Linked DNA regions of Homo sapiens. The protein of the gene in region 1 binds, or shares a complex with, the protein of each later gene. Links are inferred from orthologs where the notes say so. Each region holds a gene or a part of one and is shown in the gene's direction. Other genes may lie near its edges. The genes, in order: DLG1 and CASK.

Region 1 (8,198 bases):
CATAGATTAATCGAAGAAACAATGAACTAATGTTCAGCCCAGCTCCAGCCAGCTGTGGGGTCCTAAACCAAGTTATCTCAGTTTCCTCTTCCTCTGTGCTCTCCTTTGCAAAGTGGGAGACCATAACCAACGAGTTTATCTTATCGGTTGCTGTGGACCTGCAGTGAGTTAAATCTGCCTTTGAACACTGTATGAGAGGCTATACCACTCTCCGGATAGACCAGTTTACACGGGAGGCAGTTATTAGTCCTATGCTGATTTAGTACTCCATTATACCACACTCCAGGAATCTTAGGGTGGCTCTTCCATTAAAAAGCATTAATTCAGTGCCTAACTACCTATCATGGAGATGGTCAACTGTCCACATTTTAAAGGGAATTGGTTTCAACCTGTAGCTTTTATTCTGTTAAGAATTATCTATGAGAAAGAGATCAGTCTTGGTACCACCAAAACTGGGTAGAACGAATTCTTGATGTAGACTAAAGGGTGCTAATACCATTTCAGTATTCAGCAGGGACTGAGGTTTCAACAGCTTAGAACTGTGGTCTCAGAGGTCACGTGGTTCAACCTTATGTCCTGGGTATCTACCACCCTCTGACACAGAATCCTTGCTGGCTTCATTCAGCACCTTCCTGATTAAAAAAAAAAAAAAATTTCCACTACCTTGAGGCAGCTCTTTGGAATTTTGGACAGTTTCTGACAACTCATGTTAAGGAAAAACTTCCTGTGTTTGTCCATTGGTTGAATTTTCATCCATTGACTGTACTTGCCCACTGGGTACACAGAATAAGCCTGTTTGATGACTGCAGCTCCCTGGAGACTTCTGTTTTTCCAATGAAATGGCCCTAGATTGTACAGTTGTTTCCTGATTGCTGTGGTTACTCTCTTCTTTCCACATGCTGGTTTGTTCAGATTCCTTTAAAAGCGTGCTGCTAAGCAATGCCCCCTAGGCTCTCATGGAGGTCTGACCAATATGTCCACTTTCAACATACTTGACACTGTTCCTCTTCCTGCAGCCTAAGCTGGCATAAGCTTTTTTGACAGCATTAAATCCTTTCCTTTTAGTGATTGCCTTGGCACAGGCAGCATGCTGCTACCCTGCTGGAGTGAAAGCAAAAGATGCAGCGGAGTCTGGCAGGACCTGGACACCTTCATAGATTTATAAGCTGGGGCCTAGATGGAGGAGAAGACAAAGACAGAGATGTGAAGCTGCAAAGGTGGCTTGGGCAGGATGGTTGGGAAGGGAAGGGTTGGAACTTAGAGACAGTATCTTTGACATTGACTCTCTGACATTTCAATAAAAGAATGGGAAATCTGAGCCTTTCCCCATGGTCTTTGACTCCGAAGCCTTTTAAGCTCTTCAAAAGGCAAGTTAACTTGGAGCTGGAAAGTGAACAGCTTTACCTGCTAGTATTTTGTTGAAGTAACTTCTTCTATTCGTCTATCTAACTATCGATAGACAGACAGATAGGACAGATATAGATAGATAGATAGATAGATAGATAGATAGATAGATAGATAGATGATAGATAGATAGATAGATATAGTGTGTGTGTATATATATATATATTTAATGAGGAAGTTGGAAAATTAGATCCAATATTGTGTCCTATTCAATGGCAGCTGCTCACTGCACAAAGTAAGGAAAACTTTGAGGAAATAAAAGTTGCTTAGAAAAATCCAGATGTCAGGGCTGGGTGCAGTGGCTCACACCTGTAATCCCAGCACTTTGGGAGGCTGAGGCGGGTGGATCACGAGGTCAGGAGATCGAGACCATCCTGGCCAACATGGTGAAACCCCGTCACTACTAAAATACAAAAAATTAGCTGGGCGTGGTGGCACATGCCTGTAGTCCCAACAACCCAGGAGGCTGAGGCAGGAGAATAGCTTGAACCCGGGAGGCAGAGGTTGCAGTGAGCCGAGATCGTACCACTGCACTCCAGCCTGGCAACAGAGCAAGACTCGGTCTAAAAAAAAAAAAAAAGAAAAGAAAAATCCAGATGTCATTGCTTTGTATGTTGTGATGATGTGGTAGCCAGCTCCAAGAAGATGGCCTCCAGTGAGTCTTACTTTCTGGTATTCATATCCTTGAGGCTGATCTAAGTAACTGATCGGATATTATGGAGTATGCTATGGTCTGAATGTTTGTGTCCTTCTTAAATTAATACGTTGAAATCTTCACCTTCAAAGTGATCATATTAAGAGATGAGGCTTTTGGGAGGTGATTAGGTCTTGAAAGTGGAGCTCTTCTAAATGGGATTAGAGCCTTTATAAAAGATGCCAGATAGAGCTTGTTAGTCCCTTGCACCATGGGAAGATGTAGCAAGAAGGCTCCATTCATGAGGAATGGGGCTATTACCAGACACTGAATCTCTTGGTGTTTTTTTTTTTTTTTTTTTTTTTTTTTTTTTTTTTTTTTTTAAGACAGAGTCTTGCTCTGTCGCCCAGGCTGGAGTGCAGTGGCGCGATCTCGGCTCACTGCAACCTCCGCCTCCCGGATTCAAGCAATTCTCTGTCTCAGCCTCCTGAATAGTTGATTACAGGTGCCTGCTACCATGCCTGGCTAATTTTTATATTTTTAGTAGAGACGGGGTTTCACAATCTTGGCCAGGCTGGTCTTGAACTCCTGACCTCGTGATCCACCTGCCTTGGCCTCCCAAAGTGCTGGATATTACAGGCATGAGCCACCGCGCCTGGCCATTTTTTTTTTTTTAATTTTTATTCTCATGACTGTTAGATCACATCTGATGGTGTTTTGATCTTGGACTACTTAGTCTCTAGAGCTGTAATACATTCCTGTTGTTTATAAATCACCCAGTCTAAGGTATTTTGTTATAGCAGCCCAAACAGACTATGACAGAGTGTCACTTTTGAGACTAAGTGATGAAAGGCATTGTGGCTTCTTCTGTCTCGCCATCTTGAATCACTTGCTCTGTTGGACGTCAGCCGCTACGTCATGAAGACACTCAAGCAGCCCTATAGAAAGGTCTTCATGGTGAGAAATTGAAGCCTCCGCCCAATAGCCAGCATCAACTTACTAGCTATGTGAATGATCCATGCTGAAAGAGCCTCCCGTAGTCCCCCTGAAGCCTTCAGATGACTGCAGCCCTGGCAGGCTTCTTGACTGCAACATCATAATGCCCTGAGCCAAAACCACCCAACTATGCCGCTCCTGAATTCCTGACACACAGAAACTGAGATAATATTTATCGCTGTTTAACTTACTAAGCTAATAAGTTTTAAACCCTTAAGCTTTGAGGAACTTTTTTTTTATCCAGCAATAAGTAACTAATAAAGATGGGTAGAAAGGAGGAATGAAGAGTAAAGAGCCTTTATTCATTGTTCATATATGTTCATTTGCTAGGCACTTGCTGCCGGCACCTTAGGCTAAGGGTAGAACAAGTGCTGGGTTCACTGCTGCTTTTGTACACCGCTGACAACCAAATAGGGCTGTCACACAGAATGACAAGAAAAAAGGACACGTCCTCTTTCCTCCCCTTCCTCCTTTTTGCTTTTAGGGGAAGGCTAGGATGACATTGAGAACTCACACAAATTTTGTTTTTGACTCCTCAGTGTCCCCTGGGAAAAGGTGCATTGGCCTTTGTGTACTTGCTACAAGGCTGTGTATCCTTGAGAGCAGGACTCGGATCTTATTTATTTCTATCCCCGTTTCCTAGCAAGTGAACATATATGAACAATAAATGTTATCAAGGGAGAGGGCAAATTTCCCTCCCTGTTTCTTCTGAATTCTGAAGAGATTCCATTGTTAGAATGGTTTCTTACTGCAACCATCCCATTCACAGTCCATCAGCGAAGTCTTGAGAGTATGATGCCTGTCATGAGCCACTTTCACTACTAAATAAATTCCGTCCCTCTGTTAAGTTCCCGGCTGTTAGGACACCTCTGCCTTCAGCACCGTTTGACCCTTCTATCCCATTTTCTCTATGCAATGTTGCTTTAACTGTTGTTCAAGATCCCAGGATGCTTGATCCGGGAAAGCACAGAGGTCTGCTGCCAACATACCAACATACCTCTCTGTCAAGTTGTCCAAAATCACAAGAGAAAGAGCCCTGGACTAGAGCTAGGAGACCTGAGTTCTCGGCTGCTCTGTTACTGATTAGCGTCTATGTCCTTGGACAAGTTGCTTCCCTTTTTCCGGACCTCGGTTCCTTGTCCTAGATAGGTTCTAAAGTCGGTGGGTCCTTACAGTAAGTTAGGATTCTAAGGTGCAATCCAAAAGTAAAACCAGTGGTCAGTATACCTCTGAGTAGCTGTTAAGGTTACAATACGAGGTTCCTCGGCCTTCCCTTTGGTAGCCAATGGATACGGCCTCAGTCAGAGGCCGTCAGGTTTACTGGGAAGAGCCTTCCGGTTTTGAAAGACAGGATCTCCGGGTTTCCAGTTCTGTCACTCACTCGGGGTAACTTTGGGCAAATTCTCTCTGGACCTCCTAATAGGGAGGTCCTCGTCACCCCGAGGAAGTTCGAAGACGTGGGCAGTGACTTGGAAAGCTTCCCGAGATTCCCCTTCTATAACCTGGGTGGCTCAGACCGGGAGCGGGGTCCCAGCCGGCCGGTAATTCCGCCCGGAGGTGCGCACGAAACAAACCTGCAGCGCTGGCCGAGGGCGGCTCAGCTTCGGAGGGCGCGACTCCGGGTGAGTTCTTAAAGGGACCGTCAGAGTTTGGGTAACACCTGCGATGCTGACCGGGCGGGGACGCAGGCTTGAGGGAAATGAATGAATGAATGAATGAGCGAATGAATGAACAAACCTTCTCTGCCCACCCTTAAGTATACCATACTCGGAATTAATCAGTTAGGCTTAAAAATCTTGTACTATAACCCTCAAACTCTTGCCAAGTTAACCAGTGTCTCTATTTCATATGTCCTTCTGTAATGAAACCCCTCCCCCCAAGCCTATTACTAAGGGACGAAGAGTAACTTAACAATCAGCCTGGAGTGGAAGGCAATGCAGAGTTGGCACCCCTCCCCGAACTCCTCCCTCTCCCTCTCCCAGGCCCCGCCCTCCCCGCCCCCTGGGAGGTGCAGTTGGCTCCTCCTTAAGGCGGCTTTTCCCCGGTGGGGATCTACCCCCGGGGTCGCCAGGCGCTGTCTCTGCCGCGGAGTTGGAAACGGCACTGCTGAGTGAGGTTGAGGGGTGTCTCGGTATGTGCGCCTTGGATCTGGTGTAGGCGAGGTCACGCCTCTCTTCAGACAGCCCGAGCCTTCCCGGCCTGGCGCGTTTAGTTCGGAACTGCGGGACGCGCCGGTGGGCTAGGGCAAGGTAAAGGCGGGCTCCTCCAGGGCCACCCCGGGCCACCTGTGGAGTCCGAGTGTTAACTCCTTTGTTCTCAGAGCCACTTCAGCGGCCGCCCTTTTAAGCGAAGAGGTTCCCTTAGGATGCTCCCCGGGTACCCCTTCCGTTCCCCTGCCCTCCCCCGACCCGCCTCCCCCTTCCAACCCGAAGGTAGCAGCGCGGGGAGCCCGGGGCTCGGCGCGAGCCGCCTCCTCACTTCCCATTGGCTGAGAGCGCCGGGAAAGCGGTCACGTGGGAGCGCGGCAGGCCAGCTCGGGGGCCGCCATCTTGGCGGAAAGTTTCGGGGGAGAGCGGTTGGGGGCGCGGAAGGAGGCGAGGTTCCGGGGGTGGGGCGTGCGGCAGCAACTGGGCGAGCGGGCCGGGGGGCCGCGGCGAGCGAGGAGGCGGCGCGGCCGAGAAGGAGGACGAGGCCGCGGGGGTGCGGCGGCCCAGGGGAGCTCCTCCCCCGTCCCTTCGCCCCCTCCGCTCGGCTCCGCGGGCCCCGGGCGGGGCGGGGGTACGTGGAGCGGGGCCGGGCTGGGGAGCTGCTCCGAGTCTGGCCGGGGCGCACCCCAGTTCCGAGCGCACGCCGCTCACCGGAACTTTGTGGCGGCGCCGCAGGTGTGGGGGCCCGCGGAGGTGTGCATGCGGGGCGCGAGGGCGTCGCGGAGAGCGGCCGCTGCCCTGTCCGGCCCCCGCTGGAGCAGCCCGGAGGCAGCGAGCAAGGAGAAAGGCAAGCGAGAGGAGGGGGCCCGAGCAGGGCGGGCGGCCAGTCCCGCTGGTCCCCTCTCAGCGCTCTGCGGCCGCTGCTGGCTCAGGGGCCAAGGGTCGGAGCGCTTCACCCGCCCGTACCCAGTAGCAGGTGGGGAGTGTGGATACTTGTGCGGGGGAAGAGGCGGCCTCAGGTCTAGGCTCTTTGGGGAGGGGACGCTTTCGAGGAGAGTTTGGAAGCCGACTTCTGTCTGTTCTTAATTTGGAGGGGTACCCACTCCAAGGAAAAGCTTTCCACGTTGACAGACAACTGCTGCGTTTTGAGACTCTTTCTTTGACTTGGTAAAACTTTGGAACGTGGGGTTTTCAAATAGGCTGCGAGGGTTTTCTATTTCGATAGGGGAAAATGCTAGTTTAACATGATTCTATCCTTTTTCCTTTCCGTTGTGTGTTTTAAAGGTGTGTGCCCTCTTCCTGATTCTGGAGAAAAATGCCGGTCCGGAAGCAAGGTGAGAGTTTATTCCGTAACTCTGTTGTCGATGTCACTTGCTTTTCCGTGTGTCAGTTTTTTGATTGCCGTTTTAGAATCGTTTGTGTAACTTTGATGAGACAGCACGGTCCTAGCTTTATTGCTTAGGGAATCTAAGCCTCATATCATTTCAGAAGATGGAAACACGAAAATGTTTGTTAAACTTTCTTAACATTTCTCTAGTGATTAAGAGAGGCAGTTAGCCCCCCCCCAACAGATGTCCTTAATAACCCTGAATTGGTGTTTTAGTATTTCACTCTATCATTCTTACTAAGCACTATTCTGTAAGCAACTGTGGGATACTAAGAATTTGTATTTTGAAATGTTAAAAATTTGGATTATGATGACAAATTGTAGATAATCTGCTTTTGCATTATCAGGTAATCTGAAACTGTTGCTAATACTTTGATCTTTTACTTTGGCAAACTACCAGTACACATTTATTCCAAACTGCTCACTCTCCTCCGTTTTCTAATGTGATATATGTTTAAATTTTTCTTGTATTTCTTTAATTTTTTTTTTTATTTTTTGGTCATTCTAAGGAATATGTGTACATGAACATAGTGACATCAATTGACCTGAAGGATTTGCGGAACTATTTAGATGTCATGCAGAATTATTTGCACTAGTATGTGATACTTTTTTTGTAAATAGAGAGTTTTAATCAGGCTCTGCTTTTTCTTCTCAGATACCCAGAGAGCATTGCACCTTTTGGAGGAATATCGTTCAAAACTAAGCCAAACTGAAGACAGACAGCTCAGAAGTTCCATAGAACGGGTTATTAACATATTTCAGAGCAACCTCTTTCAGGCTTTAATAGGTGGGAATTAAAACTTCGTAACTATTATGCCAGCTAGGCTTTATGCTCCTCTCAATTCATTTATTTTAAACTTAAGAAAATGATGTACTTAATTCTCTGAGGCATTCGGTAACTTGAACATCTTCAGTGAGTTGTGTGTTTTTCATAGGCCAGTGTCCTTTCTTAAAATAACTAGTAACCAAAAAACTTTCAGGATTATTTCAGTGGCTTTTGAGAACATTGTTTCACATCTTAATAGCATTAACTATTAAAAGATGTTGCACAGATGTTTAAGGACCTAAAAGGTATGACTGAGTTACTGTGAGCTTGTTTCTGTATTTGACTGGCATGTCTCTGAAGTCATTGAAAGCGTGTGAAGGGTTCTGCTGTGTTGAAGAACATTCATTCCCTTAATGTAGATTTCTGTTTGAGCTTGGCATTCATGGAGTCAGAATTTTAGACCTGGAAAATAATCTTAGAGATGATCTTGTCTAGTAACCGTATTTTACAGGCAAGAAAATGGAAAGTTTTATTCTTAATTGTAACTTAATTTGAAGTGGTGCATTGTTTGAAAGAACTGGAAAAATAAGAGTCCTGAGTTCTTTTGCCACTAATTGAATGATATATCCCAAGTCATTTAATCTTTTCTATGCCACCATATTAGCTGTAGAATGTAGCTGTTGAAATGACAGAATGGGTTTAAAGCCTTTTTTAAGTAGATAAATCATTTTTAAAAGCATCATCTCATATTTTGTGTATAATCTCCTATGTATAAAACAAGGTGACTTGTCTGGCTCTTTTGTCCAGGTACCTCAAAAAGTTTGCAAACCACCGAACTAGAAAGTTTGTCTCTTCCAATTCTAA
Region 2 (7,269 bases), on another chromosome or scaffold:
CTGGAAGGGTGATGATGTGATCTCTTTGGATATCAAAAAGAAATGGTCAGAATCACATTAACACAGTCCATATTCTGCTGATTTGTAATTGATAGAATATTTTTCAGGAAACACCCCTGGGAGAAAAAAATTCATCTTTTCTGACTGTTTCAGAGCTGCATAAAGAGGGGCAGCAAGCTAATTTTGAGGTGATAGGTACTCTATGGCTACCTTAACTACTATGAACTGTGAAATCTCATTCATATCCTACAAAATCTGACTTGGTCAGTGCCAATTATAAAATGCCATTATGTGAAATAATGAATTCAAGCTAGCCTTATTGTTAAAGAATGTAATAATAGTGTTCCTCAATCTGAGTAAAGGTTGAAGGTTTCTCTAGTAAATTGTCTTAGTATATATTGATCTGGAAATTGAAATTAGCTTGAGATTTTCTTGCAGGGACCTTGACAGCATACATTTTTAACTTATAATTTGTTCACCTCTGAATTTGAACAGAAAGCCCTTGAAGATATTCACATGTACTGAAAACCTTTTTATTGATTTCTATCCAAGTTCTATGGAATTTTGATTTTCTTTTTTACCAAATTAGTATCACAAGTTGTTTTTCACCACTAGATCTTAATAGGTTTTAATTTTTACTAAGGTACTTTAAAATAGATTTCACTTTTCAAGACTAATTGACTACCCACTCACTCCTCTACCTACGCAACCACCTACTCACTCACCCACTGTGTACTTGGCCTTACTTGATGGCATAAATGAAAGTTCTCGTTTAATTTAGACCCTTCAGTGTGTTTTTTTCCCCCTTGGTTGAGAAAGATAACTTACAGAGTTAATGAGGTTTTGAAATATAAGATCATTATTTGGAATATGTTTTCTTTCCAGTGGTTGCAGCCTTTACCCTTGTTAAAGCTGTCTTTGAGGGAACATGTGCCCAATTTGTTACAAATATTGGAAGGATGCCGTTTCCCTTTTTAAAAATTAAAACTCTTTTCCCTGTGTTTCTCATTTTTGAAAATCTTGCAGAAACTCCTTTGAGTGACTGTTGGTTCTATAACATTTTCTATGTAACTATCTTTTAAATGACTGAAACAAATCTCCAATAATAAGACCTTATCATAGTCCCAAAACTTCTTGTCTTAGCAAATGTAGCGATTACTGGAAAGGAAGGGCGTTATGCAAATGAGGTTAATGACTAATTTTTATGTCATGATCATTTACTGTATCTTTTACAATTATAAGTAAGTGTACAACCGGTAATACTACATGAAGGAAATTTAAGACAATTCATCGAAATTAAAACATAGAAAAATGCCTACTTTCTTGGTACAGCAGTGTGTATGAAAGGGAATAACAAAATACATACCATTTTTACCTTGTGTTAGGTGAATACTTGCCCTGTTTAGTAGCCTGTAGCTTCAGACTTTCCTGCTCTGGTAGGACATACACTAAAATTGGAATGATGCAGCATGACCCTTGCTTAAGGATGACGTGCAACTTTGTGAGGCATGCTGTATTTGCTTACTCCTCGAGAGCACTTTTATTTAATTACAGTTACTTATTTATGGATCTCTCTAGTTCACTAATAAGGAGCTTCCTGAGGGCAGGGAATGTTTCTTACACATCTTTCTCCATTAACACAGTGCGTGCAATGTAACTGCCTTTCATTAGCTGTGGAATGAATTGAGTAGTTTTAATAAAATCTCATTAAAAGGCAAAAAAGCATGTTTGTCAACCTCAGAGCAATTATTGTCCGAAGAGCCTGCATTAGTTTAAAGTAGTGGTTCTCCACCTGGCTGCATATTAGAATCATCCGGGGAGCTTTTAAAAAAGATCAACGCCAGAGCCCTGTGTCAAAGCAGTGAAGTCCGAGTTTCTGGGACTGGGTCCTGGTCACTGACATTTTTTTAAAGCTCTCTGTGTGATTCTAATATGCAGCTATAATGAGGAATCATTGGCTTAAAACTTAGATTATGTATGTAATATTTTGGGACTGGCTTTTCAGAGGCTTACAATTCTTACAAAGTAGAATAAATTCTTTTTGGAAGGTATTGAAGCTAAATGGCTAAAACATGGATTTTATCTTCTATGCACTTGTGTTTCTCAGCCTTATTGTGTAAAAATTTAGTTTTAGCTTGTGTTTGGCTTTGATTTCTTGGGCCTTTTAAGATCCACATTGATTTATGACACTCATCTAATGCTAACATGGCGATTGTCTGACGTTTGGAACAACACAGAACAAGGATTGCTTCAATAACAGTTGATGATGGTTTTCCACTATAATGGCTTGATTTAATATGAAGAAATTTATCAGTTTAGTATGGATTGTGTTTGTACATACACTCTATTAAAAGAGTATGGTTAAGTTGCTTGTATGCTTTAAATTACATACTTGTGATTCCAGTAATGCTGTTAGCTGGAGAATTGAGTTAATGCAGCCTTTATGTAAATACTGGATTAATAATACGTAAAGTATATAATTCAGCATACAGAAAAATTCAGCTTTACTAATTTGTACTAATTACTATGACTTTCACATGTATTGATTCATGCAGTGATTTGGGTTTCTAGTACCATAGGGAGAATTTCGCATTGTGTTGAAAAAATGTTTCCCGGAAATTTTAACTAGACTTTGTAGGTAAACTAGTTTTTAATGTTAGGAAAAGATCAAGTGTTTGCCTGAAGGAACCGAGAATTTTCCAGAAATGAGTAGATATTCCAGAAATACCAGTGATCGTGAAAGCAGTGCATGATCACAGTGACAGCCAAGTAACAAGGTAAAAGAAGTGATCAGCAGCTAAATTGTTGGTGGCCCAGAAAGAATGCAAGCCATGGGAGTTAAGCTGTACTTCTACAGAGGAAAATCCTTTTGAACTCAGGGTGTGGATGCTACAGATAGCAGGCCTCAATGGGAGTGGGGAAGCAATATTGATTCCTGATGATCCTAGGATCATTTGGAGGGAGAACAGAGCTACTCCGTTGCTTTTCTGCATGTATACAACCTTCTCTAGTCTCTTCCTGTCTGCTTTTTACAGATTGCTTTAGGGTGTGTTGTTTGAAGTTGTCTTCATAAATACTTCCTGTGGACTCCCTTAATTTTTATGTCCGTAACACGCTTCTATGTACTTGACATACGCAGTTCAGCTCTCTCCATTTTTTCCTTGTATCTGCAACAGTTTCACCTGATGAACTACGTCTCAAGTGTCCCTAAATTGTGTACCTGGATATTTCCTTTAAACTGAAAATTCTGTCTCCAGCTGTAGTTCTACTCAATAAATTGAAGGAGCAGATATACCTTGCTTCTTGAGATTATTCTTGAATTATTACATTTTCTTAAACGTTTTCACATTTTAAATGTGGTAGGAGCACTGCATTTAAAGGAACTTTGACATAAGGTTGTTTAAAAAACTTCTATAACTTAAAGCTTACTTTATAAAGGGATTGACATTTATCCCTCTAATGTTAGGCATTTTGGATGTATTATTTAATCATACCCATTTTACAGAGAACACTGAGATTCAGAGGGGGTGATCAGTAATTCGCCTAAGATCACACAGATTCCAACGCGGTTCCATGGTTTTAAAGTCTGTTCATTTCATGCTGCATTCTGCTGCTAATTCAAGTTGTGAAAATACTGTGTTGGATTTTCTTAAAGACACGTCTTCATTTTCAGAGTTTCTATACTGCAAATTTTAGTTGTTTGACTTTCTGGTTAAATTTCTTATTTCTTCAGTAGAGGTTCCATATACTATTCATTCTTTCATCTGTTTCTTTTTTATTTTTGTCTTTCTCTTTAATGAAACATCAGCATTTGTTACCAAACTAACTGGTAAATCTAGCAATGGAAATATAGACTCTTGGCCATCTGTCCAAAATATAATTTGTTTTGGAACTTTCTCTACTTCTTTTACTCTCCAAATTTTTTCTTCCATTTCCCTTGCCCCAACAGACAGGATAGTTGATTAATTACCCCTAACTTGCCAAACCAGAAGTAATAAGGTTTCAGAGGTAGATGTTTGTTGGAAGTGGGGTGGAGTGGTTTCCAAAGGATAGTTATTCCTTTATCCTGTGATAAAAATACGGAGATTGTTCTCTCTGATTCTGAAAACCGTGTAGTGAGCTGCAGCCGCTGAGTCTGTGAGCTTCTAGCTGTTTGCCAGCACTGTACACCTTAAATAATCAAGAGACTGAGTTAACTATTGCAGAGCAGGTACCGGACCCCAGCCAACAAGCTGATGGGATGTGCTGTTCTCACATTTTTTGGTTTTATTTTTTAGTTGCAACTGACAGTGAAGATTCTAGAAGCACCAAATATGGCTCTGGATTTATGCTGTGGGATTTAAGATGCTACAGAACTTGCTCTCCTTCCTTTCTGTCCTGGAGCCACTATGGTATTGGTTGTAGAGCCCAAGTCAGTATAGAGTCTCTGACTTCTACCCTGGGAAAATTTCATTTCCGAAGCTAGTTTGTTTTGAAGTTAATGTTTATTTCCAACATTGAGATTTAATAATTTTGTGTTACTTTTCTTTATTAATTAGTTTTTATACAGTAAATTATAAAAGTAATGATGCACGTAGTAAATTTTATTTTCTTTTTTTGAGATGGAGTCTCGCTCTGTCTCCCAGGCTGGAGTGCAGTGGCACGATCTTGGCTCACTACAACCTCCGCCTCCTGGGTTCAAGTGATTCTCTTGCCTCAGCCTCCCAACAAGCTGGGATTACAAGCATGCACCACCGCGCCTGGCTAATTTGTGTGTGCGTGTGTGTGTGTGTGTGTGTGTGTGTTTTGAGACGGAGTCTCACTCTGTCGCCCAGGCTGGAGTGCAATGGCGCGATCTCGGCTTACTGCAAGCTCCGCCTCCCAGGTTCACGCCATTCTCCTGCCTCAGCCTCCCGAGTAGCTGGGACTACAGACGCCCGGCTAATTTTTTTTTTTTTTTTTGTATTTCTAGTAGAGATGGGGTTTCACCATGTAAGCCAGGATGGTCTTGATCTCCTGACCTCGTGATCCACCCGCCTTGGCCTCCCAAAGTGCTGGGATTACAGGCGTGAGCCACCGCGTCCAGCCTAGTTTTTTATTTTTAGTAGAGACGGGGTTTCACCAGGCTGGTCTCGAACTCCTGACGTCAGGTGATCCACCTGCCTTGGTCTCCCAAAGTGCTGGGATTACAGGCGTGAGCCACTGTGCCCAGCCATACAATTTAAAATATAGGTGATACAAAGATAAGTAGTGAGTCTGTCTCAATTCTCCTACCATCCATATCCCCATTCTCTAGAGGTAACCATTGTTCAGTTTCTTCTCCATCTTTCTGGAAGCTTTTTGTTTAAAAGTGAGATATTTGTATACTATGCTGAAATATTGATTTTTCATGAATAATAGTATATACTTGATGATCTTGTCATATCCATCAATGTATCTGTCTGTCTCTATCTCCTCTTTAGCTGCTGCCCAGTATTCTGTCATATGGATTGTTACTTTGGCTTTGGATTGAGTGCAAGCCAATTGTAATTTTACATTGCTTGAAATGCTGAGCTGGAATTTGGGTGAGAGGTATGGAATGGCAGTGAAGATTTGGGAGTCATCTGTGTGGAAGTAAAACTGAGTGAACAAGTTCTTGGGGGTTGACTGCTCTAGGGCTCGTGGTTTGGAGTATAACTCATAGAGTTAGAAGAATCAGGATAATGGGCTGCACAGAAGTTTAAAAGAGGGGGGAGGATCAATAATGTAAAATGCCAATATACTCTGAGGACTAAGAACACATGTGGCTATAACAGAGAAACAATTTAAAGCACTTATCAAAATGAATATTATGTTTAATAGTCAATTCATGATGTGTCTGAAAAGCTAGGTCTGGCTTCTTTTCTGTGGATACTAGTAATTTTATACTATCTCTCTGTAAATCTATCTCAGAACCAACATATTTAGGGTAAAAACAAAGTAGATTTCTTTTTCACTCTAATTGTGTTTTGCAGATTTCTGATGACTGGCTTTTAGGTAAAATCATTTGGTTTTCCTAAGATTATGTCCTTTTCATTCCCGAGCTTGTGCATGACTGTCAATTAAATGGAAGCCTTTCATGAAGTGACAAAGTAAGTTTTAGATACTTTACATTTACTTTAAGTTCTTGGTATGTGTCAAACCACTGTTATTGTCTTATATCTTTCTACTATAGGAAACTGAATTCTTTCTAGCCTCAAGGATTTTTGTCCACGTTGGATGAATGTAGTACTGTCCTCCTCTTTCACATTTCTTCTCCCATCACCTCCTAACTAAATTTGTTCATTGGCTATTTTTGGTTGTCCACATCCATTCACAATAAGAAACGATTGCTTCGTTGTACATAAGCCAGTTTTTTGGTATCTAAGTGCGTGCTATTTCACTTCAGCTTCTTGTATTCTATTTATTACTGGGCTGTTGTACATTGTTTTTTCTCCCAATCTTTGTGATTTCTTTTAATATACTTTCTTTCCTTTTTGCTTTGTAATCATTGTTTTGAGTATTTGAATCATTTGCAGGTAAGAATGTGGATTGTTCTGTCTCTCATGTAGTTTAATAATATCCAAAATATACTATGTTCAGTCTGTATTTCAGGCTTTTAACACTTAAGTTAGAGTATTTTGGTATATTTAAATCTAGGATAGAAGTACACTGTATTACCATTCAACTACATGCAGATTTTAATGTTTTCTTAAATTAAAGGATGATGATATTCATTCAGTTACAGAGGTCTCTCTCTCTAGTCCTTCCATGGTGTGCAGATTACCATTATACTACTGCTATTTCATAGATTCTAATTTGTGTTTTTAGAAAACATCATCAATTCTTGGCCTTCTTTCTTACCCTTGGTATGTGATTTCCCCTAAAGGTATGGAATGCGGTTGCTCTGTGGCTTGTTAGGCAGCCCCCTTCTGATCTGGTAACCTTTGGGCACAGTGTGGCTATTTTCTCCTTATTTATAAAAGGAATGATAGCTGCTTCACAAACCATTTGTGTGGATTAGTGAATTGTAAAGTGCAGCATAAGTATTTTTTATTTCTAGAATGTCTCTGAGATACTCAAATTACTTTTGGCAGTTATGTACGTAAGTTTCAACAATTTCCAAATGTGCACATTCTCAGTGCTAAACACAGGCTCTATTACATAAATAATATGGTGAAATGAACATTCTTTTCTACCATGTGTGTAAAATTGTTAGTGGTGCTAACTTTTATTCATTGTTCATTTATGTATTCATTTCTAGCTATGAGGTCCTGGGCAAGTTAGTTAGCC

The links.
Region 2: the proteins of DLG1 (region 1) and CASK are in contact, whole or in part, in an NMR structure (PDB 1RSO), measured with the Rattus norvegicus proteins. The link is inferred for Homo sapiens from one-to-one orthologs. Residues at the interface, in NP_036920.2 of Rattus norvegicus: Arg4, Asp7, Thr8, Arg10, Ala11, Leu12, Leu14, Leu15, Tyr18, Lys21, Leu22, Glu26, Asp27, Leu30, Ser33, Ile34, Arg36, Val37, Ser39, Ile40, Phe41, Ser43, Leu45, Phe46, Leu49, Ile50, Gln53, Glu57, Val58, Leu60; in XP_038955489.1 of Rattus norvegicus: Gly339, Ala342, Ala343, Arg345, Ala346, Val347, Gln349, Val350, Ser353, Leu354, Glu356, Ile357, Leu360, Thr361, Asp367, Leu368, Phe370, Leu371, Ser373, Val374, Phe375, Asp377, His379, Leu380, Thr382, Leu383, Leu384, Asp385, Leu386, Tyr387.

Annotation. Positions count from the first base shown.
Region 1 is NC_000003.12:197,295,503-197,303,700, reverse strand, and holds the start of DLG1 (disks large homolog 1), read left to right. Parts: upstream 1-5,088; 5' UTR 5,089-5,165; exon of another isoform or gene 5,166-5,454; intron 5,455-5,565; exon of another isoform or gene 5,566-6,157; intron 6,158-6,219; exon of another isoform or gene 6,220-6,348; intron 6,349-6,465; 5' UTR 6,466-6,496; coding exon 6,497-6,515; intron 6,516-7,223; coding exon 7,224-7,355; intron 7,356-8,198. UniProt on the Homo sapiens protein: Essential multidomain scaffolding protein required for normal development. Recruits channels, receptors and signaling molecules to discrete plasma membrane domains in polarized cells.
Region 2 is NC_000023.11:41,913,506-41,920,774, reverse strand, and holds part of CASK (peripheral plasma membrane protein CASK), read left to right. Parts: intron 1-7,269. UniProt on the Homo sapiens protein: Multidomain scaffolding Mg(2+)-independent protein kinase that catalyzes the phosphotransfer from ATP to proteins such as NRXN1, and plays a role in synaptic transmembrane protein anchoring and ion channel trafficking.